Linked DNA regions of Homo sapiens. The protein of the gene in region 2 purifies or fractionates together with the protein of the main gene of each other region. This does not show direct contact. Each region holds a gene or a part of one and is shown on either strand. Other genes may lie near its edges.

Region 1 (3,663 bases), about 10 Mb from region 2:
GTCCACTGTCTCTGACTGCAGATGAAGCTTGTCTGCGCGGAATGCCTGAGTGTCTGGAGCTGTCTGCTGACTGCTGGTGGCGGGATCCGTGTCTTTCTCCTGGACTTGATCTTGCCTGTTCATGGGATGACGCAGCCTGTCCACCAGAGGAAGTCTCTGCGTGAGGAGTTCCTGATTGTCTGGAGCTGTCTGCAGAGTGCCCGTGACCGGCTCTGTCTTCGTGATGGGACCTGGGGTGTCTGGAGCCATGTCTTGACTGCTCCTGAGCAGATCCACGATGGTTTCTGGAAGCAGACCCAGACCACCTCTCAGAGTCTTCTGAATGTCCCTCACTGTCACTGTCCTGGCTAACACTGGATCCCTGGCGCCTGCTTGTCCTGGACCCCTCTGATTGTCCCTGGCCTGCCTGTGAGTGTCTAGAGATGTCGGCATGAGAGGAAGCTTCATGGTGACGTGACCCTGAGTGCCTGGAGCCGTCTCTTGATTGTTCCTCATTACGTGTTGTTCTGCTTGCACTTCTGGATCCTGACTGCCCACGGGAGGCATCAGACCTTCCCTGGGATGTGGTGTGGCTGTGATGGGACCCTGAGTGTCCAGACCTATCTACCGATTGCTCGTGGTGGGACCCCTGCCTTCCTCTTCTGCTTGACCCCGGGTGTCCACGAATGGTGTCCTGACCATCTTGGGATGCTGAGTGCCTGGAGTTGTCTCGTGCCTGCTCATGGTGGGATCCTTGTCTTACTCCAGTGCTGGGCCCTGTCCATCCATGGGAGGACTCAGACTGTTTATGAGTGCTCACCTGGTAGAGGAAAGACCCTGAACGTCGAGACCTTTCCCCTGACCGGTCACGTGCGGACTCTTGGTGGCTCTGCTGATGGTGACCAGCCTGTCCATGGCCTGACACTGACTGTGTGTCTGAGTCTTCTGAATGTCCCTCACTGTCAGTGGCCTGACTACCACTGGACCCTCGGTGTCCACTGTCTCTGACTGCAGATGAAGCTTGTCCGTGCCCAGTGCCTGAGTGTCTGGAGCTGTCTGCTGACTGGAGCTGGTGGCGGGATCCATGTCTTTCTCCTGCACTTGATCTTGCCTGTTCATGGGATGACGCAGCCTGTCCACTAGAGGAATTCTGTGTGTGACGAGTGCCTGATTTTCTGGAGCTGTCTGCAGAGTGCCCATGACCAGCTCTGTCTTCGTGATGGGACCTGGGGTGTCTGGAGCCATCTCTTGACTGCTCCTGAGCAGATCCATGATGGTTTCTGGAAGCAGACCCAGACCACCTCTCAGAGTCTTCTGAGTGTCCCTGACTGTCACTGTCCTGGCTAACACTGGATCCCTGGTTCCTACTTGTCCTGGGCCCCGATGATTGTCCCTGGCCCACCTGTGAGTGTCTAGAGCTGTCAGCCTGAGAGGAAGCTTCATGATGACGTGACCCTGAGTGCCTGGTGCCGTCTCCTGATTGTTCCTCATTTCGTGTTTGTCTGCTTGCACTTCTGGATCCTGACTGCCCATGGGAGGCATCAGACCTTCCCTGGGATGTGGTGTGGCTGTGATGGGAACCTGAGTGTCCAGACCTATTTACCGATTGCTCGTGGTGGGATCCCTGCCTTCCTCCTCTGCTTGACCCCGGGTGTCCACGAATGGTGTCCTGACCCTCTTGGGACGCTGAATGCCTGGAGCTGTCTCGTGCCTGCTCGTGGTGCGATCCTTGTCTTCCTCCAGTGCTGGTCCCGGTCCGTCCATGGGCAGAGTCAGGCTGTTCATGAGTGCTCACCTGGTAGAGGGAAGACCCTGAACGTCCAGACCGTTCCCCTGACCGGCCACGTGTGGACTCTTGGTGGCTCTGCTGTCTCAGCCCAGCCTTTCCGTGGCCTGACACTGATTGTGTGTCTGAGTTTTCTGAATGTCCCTCACTGTCACTGGCCTGACTACCGCTAGACCCCCGGTGTCCACGATCGCTGACTGCAGATGAAGCTTGCCCGCGCCCAGTGGCTGAGTGTCTGGAGCTGTCTGCTGACTGCTGGTGGCCGGATCCATGTCTTTCTCCTGGACTTGATCTTGCCTGTTCATGGGATGATGCAGTCTGTCCACGAGAGGAAGTCTCTGCGTGACGAGTGCCTGATTGTCTGGAGCTGTCTGCAGAGTGCCCATGACTGGCTCTGTCTTCATCATGGGACCTGGGGTGTCTGGAGCCATCTCTTGACTGCTCCCACGCAGATCCATGATGGTTTCTGGAAGCCGACCCAGAGTGCCTCTCAGAGTCTTCTGAGTGTCCCTCACTGTCCCTGTCCTGGCTAACTCTGGATCCCCTACGCTTTCTTGTCCTGGACTCCTGCAATGGTACCTGGCTTGTATTTTCATGTCTTGACCTGTTCACTTGAGATGATGATTTGCCATCAGATGACCTTGATCTTTCATATATTTTGTTTTCTTCTAATAGACTATCAGTGGTGTCATAGGCTTCATCCTGGATTGTGTAATATGTGGCAATATGGCCTGATTGTATCCATTTTTGAGTCATTCTTCCTGTATTTTCATAATCATATACTCCTTCTTCATTGTCTTCTTTCTCTTCAAGTCTTTCACTTAGCCTCTTCCTATTGTCTCCTAATCTAGTATTTTCAGTCTTGTTTTTCTCTTTTTTACTTGAGTTATGATGGTTTTTTCCATATTCTTCTTCTCTATGAGTAGGTGAATATCCTTTTCTTTCTTTTTTTTCAGAACTAGATTCATGCCTTTTCCCCCCTGTTTCTCTTGGGCTCTTGGATCTTCCCTTATTCCCTTTTCTATTGTTTCTTCTTTCCAGACTTGAGGGTCTTTTTCTGTTTTCTTTGTTTTCTTCCTGTTTATTATCTTCATGTTTATCATGATGACTGTGCTTTCTGTGCTTGTGTCCTGATATCGGTAAATTCTCTTTTCTGGTAGACTCATAATATGCTTGAGCCAACTTGAATACCATCAGAAGAAACTCAGTGAAGTCAATTTTCTTGTTGTGGTCTATATCCAAGTGATCCATGAAGACATCAACCATATCTGGGTCATCTGGATTCTGTACAGAGGGAAGTCACAGAGGGAGACTGCATCAGACAGAATCACATTATCAGCCAATTAATTCAAAGTTAATTTAAGGAACCTGATCTTTGAGTATTAAAAAGTGGGACAAAATCTTTTTTTTTTTTAAGACTTTTTTGTCTCATCCTCATTCAGGTGTTATATGTGAACAAAGATGTAGACTAGTAAGGTATCAAGATTTGATGGGGTAAGTGACTCTTTTTCTTATTTTAAAAGTCAGAAGTGTATATAATTCATTACTTAGTTGTCTTTAACAAAAATCCCCTTAGTAATGTTGATGTTTGGGAGAATATTATAAATACCAAAATACTAAGAACTAATTTACATTAATTTTTAAATATTTATATTTTTTTCTCTGAGGGTGTCTTTATGTTTATAATATACATCCAGGTATAGGGGAAGAAAATAAAATCTATCTCTTTTGAGACAAGATTAACTCTTTTCCTATTTTAAGAGAAATAGTTCACAAAGAGCTCAAAATAACCCTTGCTTAGATTATTGATGAGAAAAACAAATGCTCTATCTTTGGTCTTGTCAGAGACTCTTACCTTCAGGATTTGCCGAAATTCCTTTTCCAGAAGTTCCTTCAGC
Region 2 (3,663 bases):
TGCTAATGAGAAGTTCTGGGCATGTGCATTCCTCCTTCATCACCTTGCTCCCACTTCCCAAAGAGGACCTGAGCTCCCTACCTGATTGGAAGGTGATCTCACTGAACATCATCCAGGTATCTGCAAAATGGTATTGACACTTGATGGCACTGGCCATTCGGTGGTGGAGAGGCACCGTGACAAACCGAGCACTGGGGTTGACGTCATCCAGGACAAGGGGGAAGGAAATGGCATTAGGTTCCCACTCACTGGCTTCAGAGCGGAAGTAGCACTGTACCTCCTTAAAGATCTTCACACCTTTAGCAAACATGTTGTTGCAGTGGACCTGGTAGAGAAAGAGGCATGTGAGTGATAGGTTGGCCCTGCTAAGGTGCATGGAGACACAGTGCCAGCCAACTCAGTAGTTGCCGTCTACCCTGATTCGAGCTATTCTGAACTGAGGTAAGAGGAAGACTGCCATCCTGCTTCCTCCTAGGTACATTTCAGAGCCAGTCTTCTTCTTTTCACAGGGCTAGGTGAGAAACCCAAAATAGTGTACAATCTAAAACAATTTCATTTTTTTTTTTAGAAATCTCATTTCTAAATGAGAATACACATATTCTCACATATGTGTGTATGTATCTATGTGTATAGATACACACACGAATCAGGGTAGACGGCAACTGCGGCTGAGAGGATTATAGACTCGAGAGAGTTCAAGGCAAGGAAGGGCTGAGAAGATGCTGGTGCAGTCCTCATTTAACAGATGAGAAAACTGCAGTCCAGCAACATGAAGTGAGGTGGCCAAGGGCAGACAGTGCATACAGGTAACCAGGGTTGCAGCCCAGGTTTTATAAGGCCTGACCAACTATCACTGCCACTGTGAGGTTCCTAGAAGGAAAAATTCAGAAGACTGCAGAACACCAACTACATATATATATCTAGTTGTATATGTATATACATATATCTAGTTGTATATGTATATACATATATCTAGTTGTATATGTATATACATATATCTAGTTGTATATGTATATACATATATATAGTTGTATATGTATATACATATATAGTTGTATATGTATATATATAGTTGTATATGTATATATGGTTATATATATGTAGTTGTGTATATATATATATCATTGTGTATATATATATAGTTGTGTGTGTATACACACACACACACACACACACAACTGTGCTGGTAAAAAGATAATCTTTGACCCTAAAAATTTATTTTTTTCACCTGATATTAAAAGAAATTAGAGCATTTTTATGCGTCTTAAAAATCTGTGGGCCCTGGACACTGTGTTATTGGCTTAATGGATATGTCACCTTTAGTGTCAAAACAACAAAAAAAAGAGAGCTCACTGACCTATTCTAACTCCCTTACACACAAATGGAGAATCACGCCCTTAGAGATGAAGTGACTTGTGAAATGCATTTAGCTAGTTAGTAACAGAATATGTCATTGAACTGGCATCAGCCTAGACTTTTTTCTAGCATGCCTTTTCTCTACCACACTATGATTTGTGCCTCCTTAAAGAAGTTCCACCACACCCGACCCCACTGACCTTCATGGTAGTGAAATTCCTGATGCGGTCAAATTCAAACATGATCTCAATGTAGCCATTGGTGGCACTCTCGTTCCGCCAGCCCACATAGTCATAGCCGGGCCACACGTGGTATTCATGGGTCTGGGTGAAATCGTCCAGGCCAGACACACCATCGGTCAATTGGCCTAGCCCTTCTGTCATGCTGCTCAGGCCAGGAGAAGAGGAGGAAAAGGAGAGAGAAATCTGAGTTAACCACACATTCGTGGAAGAGCTTTTACCCGGCATCTTCACTCCAGATTTTGTATGAGCTTATTATCTTGGAATTGAAGGATTGTAAATAATCAGATTTGCATTATAGTATTGACTCGTTTATCTTGCATCAATGGAGAACTAAGAATTTCATATTAGTAATTTTTATAAAATATTTGATGCTTACTCCTTTAGTAGTAAAACTTTTAAACAATGTCTTATTTAATATGAAAAGCTTTCTATAATTTATTGCACCTTGCCTATTCTTATATACTGAATATGTCTTCACATAATGACTTAATATTATCAAATGCATTTGATGAACTAATTCATAGAGTAAATGAGGAAATGGATAAATGCATAGAATGAATGCTACCATACATAGTAGCACTTGCCCCACTATCATATAAATGTTTCCAGAGCTTGGTGCTGACTCTCCTTTAACTACATATTGTCATTGTTCAGTGAATCAATTTCAGAGAATCCAGTCACACTCTCTTCTATTCCACATATCCAACAACCCAGTTTGATATTAAACTAAGGGGGAAAATACAAGCTCTAAATTTAAATAATAATTTCTATTTAATTCTAATTAAATTTGTAGGATACTAGACCCAGGAAGTAAGATGCAAGGATTTCATGAGAATCCCAGGTATTGGATTTAGTTTTGTGTTCTAGCTTAGCAGGCTTTTTTGACTTCTGAGTAAGAGGCTCTGTTTTAAAGGCTGAGTTTTCCAGAAGCCTGACTGCTGGATGGAATATAACTGCATGTATGCTTATTTGACTACTTAGAGAACACGAAGAGGCTCCTTCCTTCTTTTTATGGAGGGACAGAGCAAAAACCATCATGTGGAACTTCTCTTTCCTCAAGCTCTGCATCTCAAGCTCTGGCAGATATGACACAAATTTCCCAAATGACGAGATTGGGATACTCACCCTCAAGCAATAATTGGTGTGACCCTTGAGGTTTAGAGCTAGATCAATAATATGTAAAATTTGTGAATCGCAAAAAATAAAAAAATACTAAGGGTGATTATGCCAGCCTTTTAAAATATATTTAATCATTGAAAATGTTTGGTAAATTATAAAATTTGACTGGCCTTATCCACAGTGACCAGAGCCTGGATCTCCCTTCCAAGGTTTTGCCATCTTTTTCTTCTCTCTACAGATCAGAAAGCTAGGAGAACGTAAGTTTACTTGCAATAAATATATTTCCCATTATCCTCAGAAAAATAAATCCCAGGAAAGTTTTATGAAAAGCAACAGAAATTAAAAGGAATGCCTGTTCAGTTCCCCCTTGGTCAAAATTAAATCAAGTGAAGAAGGGATAAGAAAATAAATGTTCAATATTTATATACTTTAGAGTTATTAAAATCACCAGTAAGCATATATTATTCTTGAAATTGTTTTAAATTTAAAAAGTAACTTTTGCTAATATGACTATTTCCTGAGACTCTGATGTCATCTCTCAGTGGCTGAGAGGATCTCTTCACTCAGCCACCTCCACCAGATATTTCATTACTTCAATTATTAAATGAAAGCCAATGATGTCTACATTTTTGTAATTTTTTTTATCTTTCCCCTGGAGTTAAGAGCCATAATTCCGGCTACCTTCCTTATTTCTCTACTGAATGTCTTCTCAGTCTCACAGACCTACACTCCAAACTAAATCCATCATCATCCCCTACTGAACTAAGTCTTTCTCCTTGGTTTCCCTTTTCCATAAATTATACTTCTCTTCATAGTAATGGAAAATGCTTGGCGCAAGGTAAGCACTCAAAATATATTTGTCGAATAAATAAATGTCATCCCCATTGTTTCAGTCACTTAGACTGTCAAACTTCATCTGACCCTTTTTCTCACCCTACTGTTTTGC

What was found.
Region 1: the proteins of DDR2 (region 2) and FLG purify together in Homo sapiens (affinity purification with mass spectrometry; one large-scale study listed by BioGRID and IntAct). This does not show direct contact.

The regions. Positions count from the first base shown.
Region 1 is NC_000001.11:152,311,699-152,315,361, forward strand, and holds part of FLG (filaggrin), read right to left. Parts: coding exon 3,621-3,663; intron 3,260-3,620; exon of another isoform or gene 3,050-3,259; coding exon 1-3,049.
Region 2 is NC_000001.11:162,757,873-162,761,535, reverse strand, and holds part of DDR2 (discoidin domain-containing receptor 2 precursor), read right to left. Parts: intron 1,741-3,663; coding exon 1,557-1,740; intron 326-1,556; coding exon 82-325; intron 1-81. UniProt on the Homo sapiens protein: Tyrosine kinase involved in the regulation of tissues remodeling. It functions as a cell surface receptor for fibrillar collagen and regulates cell differentiation, remodeling of the extracellular matrix, cell migration and cell proliferation.